Regions from separate parts of the Homo sapiens genome. Here region 2 is linked to region 1. The links come from fine-mapping of genetic effects on gene expression. Tissue or cell type: hypothalamus. Region 1 holds a variant in brackets; the other region holds the start of a gene. All regions are shown on one strand. Distances are from middle to middle.

The links.
Region 2: LRMDA starts here. The variant in region 1 is fine-mapped to the expression of LRMDA in hypothalamus (GTEx, PIP 0.92).

The regions. Positions count from the first base shown.
Region 1 is chr10:76,425,516-76,434,142 of GRCh38, forward strand. The region is part of intron 6 of LRMDA (leucine rich melanocyte differentiation associated); the gene reads left to right. Among named protein-coding and RNA genes, the nearest start is that of KCNMA1-AS1, 460 kb to the right of the region's middle. RefSeq lists an enhancer at 7,598-8,295. The variant A/G (reference allele first, on the strand shown) is at 4,255.
Region 2 is chr10:75,426,856-75,435,482 of GRCh38, forward strand. LRMDA (leucine rich melanocyte differentiation associated) reads left to right here and starts at 4,769. Exons shown (of 7, transcript NM_001305581.2): 1 at 4,769-4,899. The coding sequence starts at 4,870. LOC107984293 (a long non-coding RNA gene) reads right to left here and starts at 4,755. Exons shown (of 2, transcript XR_001747703.2): 1 at 4,667-4,755; 2 at 1-3,455. RefSeq lists enhancers at 4,577-5,077, 5,078-5,578 and a silencer at 4,719-4,818.

The DNA.
Region 1 (8,627 bases):
AGAAAGGTTATTTGTAGGCAGTACTTGGCATGCAAAAGCTATAACTTACTAATAATAATTATTATTTTATTTATTTATTTATTTTTCATATATATTTTTTATTATACTTTAAGTTCTAGGGTACATGTGCACAATGTTCAAGTTTGTTACATATGTATACATGTGTCATGTTGGTGTGCTGCACCCATTAACTTGTCATTTACATTAGGTGTATCTCCTAATGCTATCCCTTCCCCCTCCCTCCACCCCACAACGGGCGCTGGTGTGTGATGTTCCCCTTCCTGTGTCCAAGTGTTCTCATTGTTCAGTTCCCACCTATGAGTGAGAACATGCAGTGTTTGGTTTTTTGTCCTTGTGATATTTTGCTGAGAATGATGGTTTCCAGCTTCATCCATGTCCCTACAAAGGACATGAACTCATCATTTTTATGGCTGCATAGTATTCCATGGTGTATATGTGCCACGTTTTCTTAATCCAGTCTATCATTGTTGGACATTTGGGTTGGTTCCAAGTCTTTGCTATTGTGAGTAGTGCCGCAAATAAACATACGTGTGCATGTGTCTTTATAGCAGCATGATTTATATTCCTTTGGGTATATAGCCAGTAATGGGATGGCTGGGTCAAATGGTATTTCTAGTTCTAGATCCCTGCAGAATCACCACACTGACTTCCACAATGGTTGAACTAGTTTTCAGTCCCATCAACAGTTTAAAGTGTTCCTATTTCTCCACATCCTCTCCAGCACCTGTTGTTTCCTGACTTTTTAATGATCGCTATTCTAACTGGTGTGAGATGATATCTCATTGTGGTTTTGATTTGCATTTCTCTGATGGCCAGTGATGATGAGCATTTTTTCATGTGTCTGTTGGCTGCATAAATGTCTTCTTTTGAGAAGTGTCTGTTCATATCCTTCACCCACTTTTTGATGGAGTTGTTTGTTTTTTTCTTGTAAATTTGTTGGAGTTCATTGTAGATTCTGGATATTAGCCCTTTGTCAGATGAGTAGATTGCAAAAATTTTCTCCCATTCTGTAGGTTGCCTGTTCACTCTGATGGTAGTTTGTTTTGCTGTGCAGAAGCTCTTGAGTTTAATTAGATCCCATTTGTCAATTTTGGCTTTTGTTGCCATTGCTTTTGGTGTTTTAGACATGAAGTCCTTGGCCATACCTATGTCCTGAATGGTATTACCTGGGTTTTCTTCTAGGGTTTTTATGGTTTTAGGTCTAACATTTAAGTCTTTAATCCATCTTGAATTAATTTTTGCATAAGGTGTAAGGAAGGGATCTAGTTTCAGCTTTCTACATATGGCTAGCCAGTTTTCCCAGGACCATTTGTTAAATAGGGAATCCTTTCCCCATTTCTTGTTTTTTGTCAGGTTTGTCAAAGATCAGAGAGTTGTAGATGTGTGGTATTATTTCTGAGGGCTGTGTTCTGTTCCATTGGTCTGTGTCTCTGTTTTGGTACCAGTACCATGCTGTTTTGGTTACTGTAGCCTTGTAGTATAGTTTGAAGTCAGGTAGCCTGATGCCTCCTGCTTTGTTCTTTTGGCTTAGGATTGACTTGGCGATGCGGACTCTTTTTTGGTTCCATATGAACTTTAAAGTAGTTTTTTCCAATTCTGTGAAGAAAGTCATTGGTAGCTTGATGGGGATGGCATTGAATTTATAAATTACCTTGGGCAGTATGGCCATTTTCACAATTTTATTCTTCCTATCCATGAGCATGGAATATTCTTCCATTTGTTTGTATCCTCTTTTATTTCATTGAGCAGTGGTTTGTAGTTCTCCTTGAAGAGGTCCTTCACATCCCTTGTAAGTTGGATTCCTAGGTATTTTATTCTCTTTGAAGCAATTGTGAATGGGAGTTCACTCATGATTTGGCTCTCTGTTTGTCTGTTATTGGTGTATAAGAATGCTTGTGATTTTTGCACATTGATTTTGTATCTTGAGACTTTGCTGAAGTTGCTTATCAGCTTAATGAGATTTTGGGCTGAGACGATGGGGTTTTCTAGATATACAATGATGTCATCTGCAAACAGGGACAATTAGACTTCCTCTTTTCCTAATTGAATGCCCTTTATTTCCTTCTCCTGCCTGATTGCCCTGGCCAGAACCTCCAACACTATGTTGAATAGGAGTGGTGAGAGAGGGCATCCCTGTCTTGTGCCCGTTTTCAAAGGGAATGCTTCCAGTTTTTGCCCATTCAGTATGATATTGGCTGTGGGTTTGTCATAAATAGCTCTTATTATTTTGAGATAAGTCCCATCAATACCTAATTTATTGAGAGTTTTTAGTATGAAGGACTGTTGAATTTTGTCAAAGGCCTTTTCTGCATCTATTGAGATAATCATGTGGTGTTTGTCTTTGGTTCTGTTTATATGCTGGATTATGTCTATTGATTTGCATATGTTGAACCAGCCTTGCATCCCAGGGATGAAGCCCAGTTGATCATGGTGGATACGCTTTTTGATGTGCTCCTGGATTCGGTTTGCCAGTATTTTATTGAGGATTTTTGCATCAATGTTCATCAGGGATATTGGTCTAAAATTCTCTTTTTTTTTGTTGTGTCTCTGCCAGGCTTTGGACAACCTTAATTTCTTATTATGCTCACTACTTCTTGTGGCTGAGCCAAAACACTCATGCTACAAGACTAAATCAGTTTCTGGAGTTTAGAAGTCTTTAGTGCTTTCTTCTACTTTATTGAATTAGTTCTTCATTGAGAGAGAGAGAGCATATCTAGGAGGAGCCAGCCTGTCTTGGATTGTAGTGATATTTTGAATGGTTCCTTTACTTGTTTTTGAAAGCTCATAAACCCCTGTTAAGTAGACTAGGTGTCCAGACCTTCATCCTTGATGCTGGCTCAGGCCCATCTGTGGAGATTGACATGGCTTTAACTTCATGATGAAGTTAATTTCATCTTTTAACTTCATGATGAAGTTAATTTCATCATTTAACTTCATGAGCTATAGACCCATCATAGATCCATCGATCCAGTTTTCCTTCCAGGCCCCACATTAACTGTGCCAAGACCAGAAAACACAGAGACTTGGCCTAGACTTTTTTCTTGGATACTCCTTTCTTGTGAGATTGCCACTGGAGCTCAGCATCTTGGCCTCTCCCTATGAGATACAGTGGGGGTGAATGAGGAGGGTAAACCGGCTGAGGATGCAAAAAAGAGAATGACTCACTAGCTGTGCATCTTAGCAAGGCATGGAACTTCTAGCACGTGGCTGCTGGCAAAAGCTCAAATAACTGTATATCTGAACAAAGAAACCATATTCAGGACTGCTAAATCCCAGCAACTTAAGGCTCTGCCAGGCAAAGCAAGAGAAAGAAAGGGGAAGGATTTGAGAAGGGGTTAATTGAGGGTGAGGTAAAGAAGTTTTACTCTGTTATCATGTTGACCAATTTGTATCCATTTGCCTTTCTCCTTTGAGTCATTGTCATTTCAGTTGCTGAGAAGTGGACTGAAACCTTGCTGTTAGATGAGGAAATAACCCTGCCAATTATACACACACACACACACAAACACACACACACACACATTCCCCACACTGGCATGCCACTGCCTTTTTCAAGATAGGAGGAATCCCTTAACTAGTTATTTCATCATGCATGAAAAACCCCAAAGTAAAAATGTTGGAGAATTAACAAAAAAAAAAAAGTTACAGCCGCCAAGCCAATGTTGCATTATTTTCTCAAAAACTCATGATGTCATGGACTTAGCTCACCTTTAGTGCAGCCATGCGAATAATGTGTACTGAGCTTTCTATCATGTACCATTATAATTAGCTCTGTCAGGTCTTAGCCCTGCAACCCTCATGCAGATAATATGATAATATGTCTTCATAACCAAGTGACCTTACATGCACAATATTTCTCCCCTTATGAAGATTGCATGTCAATAAAGTAATTGAGTCTCAGAGGCTGCAGCGAGGGAAGATTTAGGTGATTGGACGTGGAGAGCAGTGATGTATGATGATTATTATTCCTCTTGTCAGGGAGGCGCGTACAAGCGAGGATGGCCAGAAGATGACAGGGATGACGGGTTGCGTTTCATTAAAAAAAAAATTGCTGTTAATCACCACTCTATTCTTTTCAAAGTCACTGAGGAAAGAAACTCTTTTTTCATTGTAGCTACAATGAACATCCCCAAATGGGAGCACATCGTAAGATTTTTAGCCTCAGTCCCCTTTCACAGTGTCTTTCTTCTGTTGCAAAGAGGCTAAATTAAGATTTTAATTAATAGATCAGCC[A/G]TGGGGGCCTGGGCAGGGGCCACCCAGCTTCCCTGCTGTAGGGCTCCTTGGGTTTCCAAATGCAGAAAAGGCGCCTGCCGAGATGGAATTGCACTTCCTCTCCTCTCTGCGTTGAGAGAAGTGTGCTGGTGAGCTCTATAAAAAGAAAGCAAATGTGAGAGAACCAGATCCGAGACAACTATTTTTACTTGAATTAATTTGTTTGGACAGTTTTAACACTTGGAACATTTATATTTCCATACTTTATAAAAGCAAACATGCTGTTTCTCTAGCTGTAAATTTATCTTATGATATCATAACAGCTGGAAACTTGTAGCCTGGTAGGATTTTGTTTCATATTTAAACAGCTTGAGAAATATGTCGGAAACAAGGTATATTTTCCCCCATCTCTGTGTGTTTTCTCCTCTCGTATTAGGCTACCTTAGGAGTGTCGGCAGTATCATTCAGAAGATACTGAGGCTCCAGGATTTTTATTAGCCTGGCATTGTTAATTGCTGCTCCCTTGCAAACCTCTTCCTATAAATGCTGAGAACACACTGGAGCCCCTTCCAGAGGAGTTCAAGAATCTTTTCAAGGGGAAAGAAAGCTAACAGTAAAAGCATCTTTTGTTGGCAGAGGGGCTTCTGAAGTCTTTAAATCTTTGTTCATAAGTAATTGACTAAGATCTAACAGCCTTGAAGGAAAGGAGCTGATGGTATCACTTTTTAGTCATAGTATTAACCTTGTGATTTATGGTACAAAATTAGCCACTGCATCCTCTCATTACGGGTGCTGAGTGATTTCTCCAGGCAGGCAGGAGGGAATTGAGAGCTGGATTTTTGTCTCCTGGAGCTCTACTGTTTCCTCCTAGGGAACCACAGTGAGTGTTTTTAGGGATAGGAATATTGTTTTCCTTCCATTTTCTCTGCTCTGTAAAAGAAAATATCAAATGTAAGTAAATAAATAACCTAAGGGAGCTAGAATGTTCAGAGGAAATGTTAACCCAAGGGTGGTCCAAGGGTGGCAGTATAGAATATAGAGTTTCAGATAGGGTCAGTGAGTGATTTCAACCTCCTAATTGTCCCACAACCCCCTCCTCTGCCTCCACAAATTCAAGGCCAAAGCTTTCTGAGTATTTTTTCCATTGAATAGTATCTGGAGTAGAGATTATATCCATTTCTCCATCTGGATAGTTTTTTCCTAATGAATTAAAAACCACCTAATAGACTTCAGGGACACTAGGAAGACTCTGATGATTTCAAGAATTCATAATCCTTATTCTATGCTGACATTGAAATTTTACAAGTGGAGCTTTATCTCTACAGTTCAAGGCTTTGGTTTCTGGTGAAAAATATGTCTCTCCCTGGGAGGAAGAAGCAGATTAACCTATTATCAGTTATTTACATCTGGGTGGAAAAAAAAGATCTAAATATTTTCTGAATGCTTTAAGTAGAGAACAAGCAAGATAATAACTAGGTGCTTGGGGAGTGAATTTACGTGTTTGAGGCGGGCTGATGCAGAGAGGAGCATGGATGCGAACGGGCCCATAACTAGGAGCTTTTTGCTGTTGAAAAGCAACTTTGCTGACTGCACAGTTTGTGTGAGCCCTCCTACAGCTCAGTTCTCTCCTCACATCAGCCTGCTTCCCTGGGTGACGACAGTGTTAAAAGCACAGACTTCAGAGTTAGACTGCATAAGTTCAAATCACTTCTCTACTACTTGCAAATTCTGGGGCTTGAGAAAGTCACTAGTCTCCTGTATGTAGCTCAGTTTTCTCATTTTTAAAAGTGACAATAATGGTGCCTTGCTCTAGGGCAGTTATAAATGTAACATCCTCATAATAACCAATAATAAGAGTATAATCAGTGCTGCCTGTTGTTATTATCCCAGTGGATGATAACTTAGACCTATGCTGGATTCGTTGTCATTGGTGATGGTGGTGGTGCTGTGGATGATAAAGAGATGATAGATCCTGATATGGTTTGGTTGTGTCCCCACCTAATTCTCAACTTGAATTCCCACATGTTGTGGGAGGAACCTGGTGGGAGGTAATTGAATAATGGGGGTGGTCTCCCGTGCTGTTCACATGATAGCGAATAAGTTTCACAAGATTTTATGGCTTTAAAAAACGGGAATTTCCCTGTACAAGCTCCCTTCTCTTGTCTGCTGCCATGTGAGACATGCCTTTCACCTTCTGCCATGATTGTGAGGCCTCCCCAGCCACGTGAAACTGTAAGTCCAATAAACCTCTTTATTTTGTAAATTGTCCAGTCTCAGGTATGTCTTTATCAGCAGTGTGAAAATGGACTAATACAGATCCTAAATATAGCAAGTGTACTGGTGCTTAATTTCCCTTTGTAAAACTTGAGTCCTGGCTGATTATCTCCAAACTTTCCCTTGACTTCTTTCCCTGTATTTTAGTTCCAGTGTGTATAAAAGTGAAAGCTGAACTTTCTGAAATGTCGTGGGTGTGGGCCTGGGGGTGCTGCTGGTGTGGTGCTCCTTTACTGGCTCTGTCTTGCCATAGATCTCCACAGAGCCCTGAGCTGTAGGGCTGTTGATGACAAAAAGAGAACATAAAATGCTAGAGGAAAGATCATTCTAACACGGTGCAAATCCCCAAACCTTCCCTACAATTTCTCTGTCTCCCATGCCTCACCCAAAGCAACATTTGGCCTAGAAGGGAACTTTGAGATGATCTGGCCCCATGCCTTTCACACTGAGCTATGCGGAATTCTAGCATTCCAATGAGACTTGTCAGAGGTGCAGGGGGAACAAGTGGTGACCCATCAGGGTGGAGCTAACAGGGCTCCCAAAGCTGGCTTCCAAATCCATTTTTATCCATTCAATACACTGGGGTCTAAAGGAAAATATCATTTAATGAAAAAATTTTATTGTCTAATGTAACAACAGAAGGTTCAAGCATCAGTGATCTAGTCCATCTTGTTCATTTTACAGATGAGGCGCAGAATAGGCTTATCACTGGCTCATGTCACTGCCAGTTAGTCATGGACCCTAGCCTTGAAATTGCTCTTTGGAAACCCCACTGTTTCCAGTATTGTGTCTGCATAGTGGCTTCCACGGGCCGAGGGCTCACCTCATTGCCCCCTCCCCACATGCCCTAGCTGGTCTCTTGAATGACTATAGCACTAGCATGTGGTGGCCATGTGTGCCACCAGTGCCACCACCCTAATGGCAGCTGTGATTATCAGCACAGAGGCCCAGGAAGAAGGACAGAATGGACTGCTGGCGGATGAATTGGGAGGGGAGGGAATGGGCAGAAGTGGAGCCACATTGAACTCAGAAGTATAAGTGAAGAACCCACTATAATGTTGCATGGGGCCTTGTTCAGCAAAGGAAGATTGCTGTCTCCCAGTCCAGTGCAGCTGAATTAAGTGATCTGGCCAGGGTGGCAGTGGGGCCTGTGTTCCTTCTCACAGGTATCTGTGTTAATGGGCACCCCTGCCTGGAGCCGCCAGTGTAGCTGCTTGGATTTCTTATTCTTTTATTTCCATCCTGTCTCCTTGTTTTCTGTCACTGTGTCATGTCAAATCATTGTCAGGTGGCAGACACCACACCCCCCAAGTACAAAGGTATCAGGTTTCAGGACACAGGCTGAAATGAATATAATAATGGGAGCCAGAACGAGGCACAGACCACTTAGCAGGCAAGGAAACAGCTAATAAGTGTTGTTAGTGGTTTCCATGGGGAGGACCTGGCGTGCATTTCTTGGACAGGCAGGTGGAGCACGGCCTGTCCTGGGGTCCAGCTACAGACAGGCTTGTGCGATTAGTATTGATGCCTGTCACTTTGTGGCTGCCAAGCTGTTGATTCTGTGAAAGACCAAAGACTCTGGTTATCTGGTAATCAACACTGCTCTCAGGAACGCACTGGGGAAACAGAAATAGGCTTTCCTGAGTATTGACTGAAGCCATGGATCATGTTGCTGGTTTGTGTTTTCCTCTAGCCCCAGCCCTGAGATTGCTCCAGCCTGTTCTTCACCTGCAGTGCCAGGTAACCATTCTTATTTGTCATGGGATCAAATTCTAACCCTCTTAGAGTGAGCCCATCCAAATGCTCTGACTCAGCTGAACACTGATGTAACCAGGGTGACTTGGGCGACAGCATAGGAAATAAGAATGCATTTGCATGTCAAGGTGGAAATTCAGTCTCTCACCTTTGACAAATTCCCACACCTTTGACAAATTCCCAAATCCAAATGCATGGTTGACGCTTAGGCTTCTTCTTATCCCACTCCACCTCACCTTTGCTTTTTTAAAGGCTCTTTAAAAATATAAACATTAAAATCCAAAAGGGTTAGTAACAGAAGAATAAAAAATATAATTCGTTTTCTCTCCTAATTCATTTTCTTGGTAACTGTTGCCTTCTCATAT
Region 2 (8,627 bases), 1.0 Mb before region 1:
GTTGCGGCGAGTTCCAGGTAAAATGGGAAATAAGATTTGTTTCTCATTGCTGTTTTCAGGATTTGTTAAAATAGTACTAAGAGATTAGCAGATAGTAGTTTTCATGGTAAATTCTCTATTCTGTGCCAATCTCCTCCTTTTTTGTTTTTAATTATAAAAGTAGTATACGCATGTTACCAAAACCACAGAAGAAATGGAGTGAAAAGCAGAAGCTCCTTTCCCACTCCCACCTTCCTCAAACCCACTCCATTCTCCACAGCCAACTAATGTTTGCATTTTACTTTATTTTTATTTTTCTAGCAAGAGAATCTTACTATGTTGCCCAGGCTGGTCTCAGTGCTAGATTACAGGTATGAGCCACCATGCTCAGTCCTATTGTTTGCATTTTCACAGAGAAATAATGACAAAACCTTTTAAGACCTAAAGAGAAGGAAAACAGCCATGTGCGGTGACTCATGCCCATAACCCCAGTACTTTGGGAGGCTGAGGTGGGTAGGTCGCTTGACCCCAGGAATTCAAGACCAGCCTGGCCAACATGACAAAATCCCATCTCTACAAAAAATACAAAAAAATTAGCCAGGTGTGGTGGTGAGTGCCTGTAGTCCCAGCTACTTGGGAGGGTGAGGCAGGAGGATCACCTGAGCCCTGGGGTCGAGGCTGTGGTGAGCTATGATTGCGCCACTACCCTCCAGCCTGGGACCCTGTCTCAAAAAAATAAAAATAAAAAAAAAGAGAAGGAAAACTAGAGGCACTGAGAATAATAAATTAACATTTGTGGAATGAACACTCATCCTAGATATTATGATGGTATTTAATATATATTTTTAAAAATTCAGTTTGTTCTGATTGGGAAATACTGGAGGGGCTTTGGAGCACAGATCATCCTCAGTCCCCTCACATATGTGCAAGTACTTTGAAGAGGGCCCTGGAAACCTTTCTTCTTTCCTGCACTTCCTAGACTTTCTCCTTTAGGCTGAAAGGGGGCTGCTTCGGCAACAAAGAGCATTTCATAAGCGGAGCATTTCTTAAGTAGACACCCCGCCTTTTTTTTTTTAAATTGAAATTTGAATGTGGTGAGTCTGAATTAGGGCCCACGGCATGATTAATTACAGCAACCATCTTAACCTGCCCGGGGGCTGGGCCTGAAAGAAATGAGGCCAGGCTGAAGAGAAATACAGCTAAGGATAGTTAGGAATGCTAACAAAACTTGGTTAACTGGCCCTGTTCTTCTCTCAGCTGCTAATGCACAGTTGGAAGATTTAAGGAATCAGTTCCTGTTTCACTGGTTCTGGCCGACCCCAGAATCAACTCCCTTGATTGGAAATAAACAGGATCTTCCTTTTTGTCCCCAGGAATGTGATGGAGGAAGGACTCTAAGGCAAAGGGCCTCTTCTGCCAAAGCAGAATAATAATAACAATGATGACAATAGGAATAAAATATTGCCCTCTTCATCAAGGGCGATAAGAGAATGTCCAGTTGTATGAGTTGAACCTTGTTGCTCTCTATGTGCCCGTCAGAGCTCCAGAATTCACAGGCTCAGGGTGGTCAGCATAGGTTGGATTTGAACTTTCTGTTTTGTGGTCCTCCTGAGTGCACTTGTACAAGCTGGGCTACGTGCTTCAATTTGGGGTTCAGAAAACAGGATCACAATGACAGCACTTCTTGCTGACACAGTGCTGTGAATGTCTGTGCACAAGTCTGAGCGTCTCTCCTGAACAGTATTAGTCAGGGATGTCCCTAGTGCCTAGCACAAGGCCAGAAGCTGGGGCACAGCGGCTGTGAAGTAAGATGGGCAGGATAGGAAGCTAGCAGCTCACTTTCAATGAGTCATGGAGTGGGGTGAGAGGACCGTGACTGCATGAGCCCATATTTTACCTCAGTGCTCCTGGGGCTGGGGCAGAAAGAGCTGTGTTCAGGACGAAGCCCCTACAGGACTCGTCTGCTATGTTCACCCTTGTAAAGTCTTTGTATTCCGGAGGAATTATTTGTCTAACTCCTAGGTCAGTCTTATCTCAGTGTTTTTTTTGTTTTGTTTTGTTTTTTGCTCTCTCCCCTCCCCGAGGGAGGGCTACATTATGGAGGAACTTTACTATTTCTGTTTAATCTTCCTTTTTGTTGGCAACAGTGATAAGGAGGTAGAAGGATGTTCCCCCTCCCGGCTTCCAATCTTCCTTGGTCCAGGGACACAGATTCTTTTTCTTTTCCTTTTACCTTTCTCCCTTCCCCCCTTCCTCCTTCTGTTCCTTCTATTCTCCTTTCCCCTCCTCCTTCTCCTTGTTCTTCTATTCTGAAGACTAACTCCAAAAGCTGAGGAGTAAGGACAGGTGAATCCAGTTTGTTTCTGCTGGTGTCCTCCCCCAACAACATTCAGGAAATTACTTCTGCTACGGTCTGAACATTTGTGTCCCTCCCAAATTCATATGTTGAAATCATAACCTCCAAGGTCTTAGGTGGAGCCTTGTGGGGGGTGATTAGATCATTGGCGTGGAGCCCTCAGGAATGGGATTAGTGCTGTTACAAATGAGGCCCACAGGAGCTAGCTTGTCCCTCCTACCATTTGAGGACACAGGAAGAAGGCCGTTGTCTGGGAACCAGAAAATGGGCCCTCACCACACACCAAATCGTGGGTGCCATGATCTTCAGCTTCCCAGCCTCCAGAACTGTGAAAAATAAATTTCTATTGTTTATAAGCACCCAGTTTATGGCATTTTGTTACAGCAGTCCTAGTAGACTAAGACAACTACTTTGCTCAAGAACTTTCAATAGCTCCCTATTGTTATCAGTTTACAGTTCCAACACTAAAGCCCCCCTCCAACAGAGCTATCCTGATCTTAATTTTTGTGATTTCTGCACATGATCCTTCCCCACACCATCAACTGGCCTTCTTGATGTGTTCACCAAGCAGAGACAGCAGTAGGTGGGGAAGCATTTCCAGCTGAAACTAACAGCTTCTGTGAAGCCAGAGGACGGGAGAGCTGGGACAGGTGGCTGAAGAGGTAAGAATTGATGGGATTATAAGAGATCTTCAGGGACATACTAAAGATTCTGGACTGTATTAATTATTACTTGATTAGGAGCCATTGAAAGATTTTAGGTAGGATCTAATTGGGCTTTTAAAATGGTTGCCCTGGGGCTATGTGGAGGAGGCAACAGTAGTGAGAGGGTGTGGAAAGGGGGAAAGATGCCAGCCCACTTTGGTGACATTGGTAGTGTCTGCAGAACAGCCTATGCTCAGATGACCCAGCTGTGTATGGAGGCAGGGGGATGGATGAGATGACCTTCAGTAACCCCCTTCTGGTGGGGGAAGGGAGAGCCGTTCTCCAATCTCATCTTTGAGTCAGCTTGGGCCTGTTTCCACAAGTCCTCTTCCATCTGTCAAAGCCCTTCTAGGAAAGCTGAGCTGAAAGGCAGCTGCGGAGGGCAGAGTGCTGGCTGGGTCCGGGCTCACTTCCTCCTTTTCAGGCAGGAAAAGCAGACAAAAGTGCACAATGGACCAGAGAGGGCGCGTCCAGCAGAGAAGGAGGGAGAAGGCGGGGGAGCTGGTCCTTGGGGCAACAGGCCTGGGAAGGTTCCCTTTGATCCCCTTATCTCTGGAGGGTAAGCTTTCTTTTTTGGCCTGCAGGACCTTTTGTTGCAGCATTTCCTGGAATCCCCCAAAGTAAACACAGTCAAGACTGCATTCTTACTGCTCTACTCTTCTGAGCCTGCTCCTCCCAGCTGAGAGAGGGGCAGGAAGGTCAACCCTCCGAGATCAACACTGCTCATCAAAATGCTGACAAGGGCCCACCTAACAATGTGTTAGGACCGGGGCTGTCTGAGAGACGATGCCAGTTAAGGCTGGGCTGGCTCTTAGCTGCAGCAAGAGTGGAAGATGACAACCAGTTGATATCTGGTAGCTCTGTGCATCCTGGACTTGGAGGCAAGAATAGGCAAGGAGAAAATCTGGATCCTTCCAGAGAATTTCAGAGAAAAACAGGCATGGGTTTAGGGAGTTACCTGCCCACTGGGCCTACTTTCATCCAGACAGGAGGCCCGTGGCCAGCTCTTCCAGGTGGGGATGGGGTGGGTGGGGAACAGCGAATAACCCCACTGATAACTTCAAGCCTCACAAATCTCTTGCCCTCTGAGGAGCAGGAGAAGAGAAGCCTGAAATTTGGGGTCACCAGCCAATTATCCTTCCCCAGGGTTTATTATTGTCAACTCTTAGAGGCCACAGGGAAAGGGTGGGGTGGTCTTCACCAAGCCAGCGTTTTATTTATAGGGAAATTCAACCCCCCCAATCCCCCTCCCCTCCTACAAATGGAAACTGGGCCGCACCAGGAGTCCTTCAACCTTCTAACTTTCCCTCTCCCCAGCTTTGATGAGGAGGGGCGTTCAGCCAAGAGGCCCCTCCTCGCTGCAGTTGAGGTCCATTATGTAACCCAGCTTGCGAAATGCAGGAAAGGCCCGGCTGGCTACAGCCCGGCTAACGGCTCAGAAAGGGCGCCCCTGATAGGAATACCCCCACCTCAGGCGTGGCCCAGACAAACGCGATAAAGCTGTGGGCATGGAGTTTTGGGCATTGGGACATCCGGGGGAGGGAGGGGCGCGGGCAGTCGGGGTCAGGCCGCCGTCGGGGCGCGGGGCGCTGCGGGCCACCTGTTGCAGCGGGCGGCCAGGGCTCACCTGCGCGGAGACCGGGCCGAGGGGCGGCGGCGGCGAGCGGCGGAGCTGAGGTCCCCGAGGCTAGCCCGCGCCTCCGGCTTCCGCCGGGTCAGCTGACTGCCCAGTGCGGAACTGTGCGCCCGCCGCGCTCCCCTGCCGCGCTCCCCGCTGCTGCCGCCGCGCCCCCGCGCTCCGTCCCGCGCGCCCGCAGCGTCCTGGCCGCCATGGCCGGGCTCGTGGTGCGTGGAACTCAAGTAAGTCCCGGCCAGCCCCGCCTCCGCCCGGGGCGCAGTCCGCGTGGGGAGGGACAGCGGGGCACAGAGGCTCCCCAGGGCCTAGACACCCCTGTCCCCGCCTCAGGGGGCTGCGTCTGCAGGGGGTGAGCTTCAGGTGCTCAGGCTCGCCCTAGTGGGGCTAGGACAGACCTCGTTTCGGGCCTGGCACACCCCCTTGATGTGCGGGAAGAACACCCGCAAGGTCTCCCGTTCTCCCCACTTCCTTCTGCCCTTAGCGCCTCACTGAGCAGGCCCAGCGGACACAGTGCTGACGGCCCCCGCTGCTTTTGGGGGCCCACAGAAAATGTTCCAATTTCATAATCTGAATTTTAAAAACTTTTGGTCAAAGAATCCATTTTGATAAATCACATTGATATAGTCATCTTTATACCAATGCAGTTGTAATATACAAATTTACTTATTTGTAAATGGAGGAAGGGGTTTATGAAGGCAAAAGTGTCTAGGGTACCCAAAGTCCCAGCACATCCCTGGAGATGAGGGTGCTGGTGGGCCCTGCGCTGAATGGGCTACGCCATAGCCAAAGGCTGATGGAAGGCCACCGACCTCCAGTTCTCTTTCCACACTCGATTTCTTGAACAGGAGTCTGTGATGAATGGCAACACGCCAGTTTCAATCCTGGGTGCCAGACACCCAGTCTCACATGCTTTGAGCTCTGTAGTGAAGCCTCAGGTGTTCATTGTTGGAGGGATGAACCCAGCCACTCTGGGACCAGGTGTCTTTCTTACCTGCTGGAAAAGCCAGTTCTCTGTCTTTAACCTCTTCTCTGCTCTGATGAAGCCAGAGCCCTCTTACTTCCCACCTTTCCCTGCACACCCTGGAGAAATAGTTCTGAGTTTTTGAAGCTCTCCTCTTGGATTGCCTAAGGCAGGTAGTGTCAGGCACAATTGGATTTTGAGATTACTTTGGGCTGAAGGGAATGATTCCTCCTTAGAGGAGATTCTAGGGGTTTTTACAGCTCCTACAGATGCAGTGAGGGCCAACTGTGCAGCCCATTAAACTAGCCGCTGCCTGTTTTCTTTTTTTCCAGAGTCCTGTCGTTTCATCAGGTACACATGTTTATTGAGTGCCTACTGTATGCCAGGCACCATGCCAGGTGTTGTTGGAAATTAGCCTTTCCTTTGTCTCTGTGCACCCCCCATTTAACAGTTTTGTTGCTCAGGAATGCTGGCTCTGTCCCTTGACCCACAGCCTGGGAGGAGAGAGCTGGAGAAAGACCAGAGTTCAGAAGTGAGTTAACAGCCTGCGGAGAGGCTAAAAATGACGGGTCTTGTTCAGCCATCGGGGAAAGGGGCTTTTTTTTTCTGGGAGTTAATTTACTGCCTGGAGGGAGGGGCTGGACAAGAGGGTCTTTTCCTTCTCTTGGAGTATCTACCTAAGAAGGAGGGTTCCCTGCCCCCCAGACCCTAGGTCTCTCTGCGTTTCAGATTTGGTGTTCTCCCGGTGTACCTTGCTACAAGTTCATGGGGCTGAGCACTTTCCTGTGCTTCCTTTCCCTTTGCTCTTCCTCCGTTTCCTAGATTCGATTTTTCCTGCAGCCCCTGTTCTTAGCCTACTCCAAACAGCCCAAGGGCATTCATGGAAGTGTGGGTGAGGCATTTTAGGCCCTTGGGGACTGTTTTATTAGACCGAGTTGCCTGGGGAGGAGCTAAGAAGGTAGGCTGGGAAAATGCCCCTGGAGTCTTAGTGCCCCATTTCCTAAACTGCCCAGGTTAGTGGATTTGAGTGTCTGGCCCCGGAGGTGGTTTTTTTGTTTGTTTGTTTGTTTGTTTGTTTTTTCTACATTCTGCTCCCAGCGATTTCTAATGGCGGCCGCTTTAAGAGGTAGCACCTTGGATGTGGGTAGCATGGAACAGTACTTGTCAGACTTTAGTAGATCCTTCTTAAAGGGAGGAAAATAAAACCCGCAAAACTTCCCATGAGCCCATAGTGTGAATATAGTTTTTATTACAATGTTACTCAAATATAAAAACATGAAGCCAGAGACAACTTTCCCATATCCAGAGACCTATAAATCCCAAATAAAGGGATGGTTTAAGTGCAAAGAAAAAAAAACCCTATGCAATTAAACAATTTAATGAGATGAATGCTGCGTGGCTTGAAGTTAGGTCACTGCTTTTAATGCCACTATGGGTTGACTGCTGTGGAGCTGGTTTTTAGGAGCTCCACAGGCCTATGATGCCACATGCCTGGGGATGTTGCAGTCTTCCTATTGCTTTTCTCTGCAAAAGGCTTTTCATTTGCCATGGGTCTGACTTCATTTGGCTTCTCTTGGCTTGAATGCATCATTTATGTTCAGCATTAAGTCATTTCTCTTTCCTCTAGCTTATGACAACGTAATACGATCGTAGACACAAATACAAACTTGGAATTTGGGCACTGAAATCTTGCGCCCAAGAGATATTGGAATAATGAATCCCTTCTGTGGGGAGAGTGGTCTGATTCAACAGCTGTTTAACAGAGTGGCCACTGGGTGCCAAGGACAGTGTTGTGCACTTTTAATATGTTAGCTCATCGCATTCCTGTAAGTACAATAGGGACGATAATATGCATGGGGCTGTTTCATGAGGATTGAATAGATAACAAGCACATGATAGGCATTTAATAAATGTTGGTTTTTACATTATTCTTAACACCTTTGGAGGAGTTAGTGTTAGCCCAGTTGCAGAAGAGGAAACAGACTCGAAGATGGTGACTCATCCGCGACAACACAGCTAGCAGTGGCAGTACCGGGAATCAGATTTGTACCTATGGTTGTTTCTACTCCGACAGCTTCCAGTACCACACATACACTTATTTATTTATGAATGAATGATAAGGTCTTGCTCTGTTGCCCAGGCTGACATGCAGTAGCGCAATCATAGCTCACTGCAGCCTTGAACTCCTGAGCTCAGGCAGTCTTCCTGCCTCAGCCTCCTGAGTAGCTGGGAATACAGGTGTGCACCACTGTGCCCAGCTCAGTATTACAAATTTAAAATCGAGGATCTCCCACCCCTGGCTAGGGGTAGGCATCAAAAAATAATCTCCTCAACATCTGACTGTTGACAAACTCATCATCTCCAGAAATGCCCTGGGAGCCAGAGAGTCCCAACGCAAAGTGAAACCTGCAGTCTTCTGCAGTTTGGTTATTTTCTGCAGCTTCGGCTTGGAGGGATTGGGTGTGTACATAGGTGGGGACCCCTTCCAGACACTCTCCTTTCCCTTTCTAGTTTCTTCTCCGTAGGGGTCTTTAACTTGTTATATTTTCATTTGCCTGGTAATGGTGTCCCTTCCTGTTATTCCACACAGGGTGGAGGTCTTAGGGTACAAATTATAGAAAATAGAGAAATTATAAGTTTGAATCTTTGTTCCTCAATGCAGTCTAAGTCAAGGTAATTGACTAAATGCAATGGTGTTCTGGATATGCTCTTGCTTCTGTGCCATTTAAGATCTATTAATCTCTGTATCCCGTCTCCCTTTTGCTGAAGAAGCAAACTATTTTTGGTTTGGCTCTTCTGGCCTTGAATCTTACATTAGGTGGTCCTGTGCTCTAAGAAGCTTCCTGACATCCTGAGAGGTAATGTCTTCCCTCAGAAGCACTTCTTAAGTCTTTTTTCTAGTTTCAAGCATTGCTTGCAATGTCTGGCAGTGGCTGCTTGCTGCTTTTAAGCCTTTTCCAGCTGATTTGAGCCCTTCAGCCTGGTCGGCTT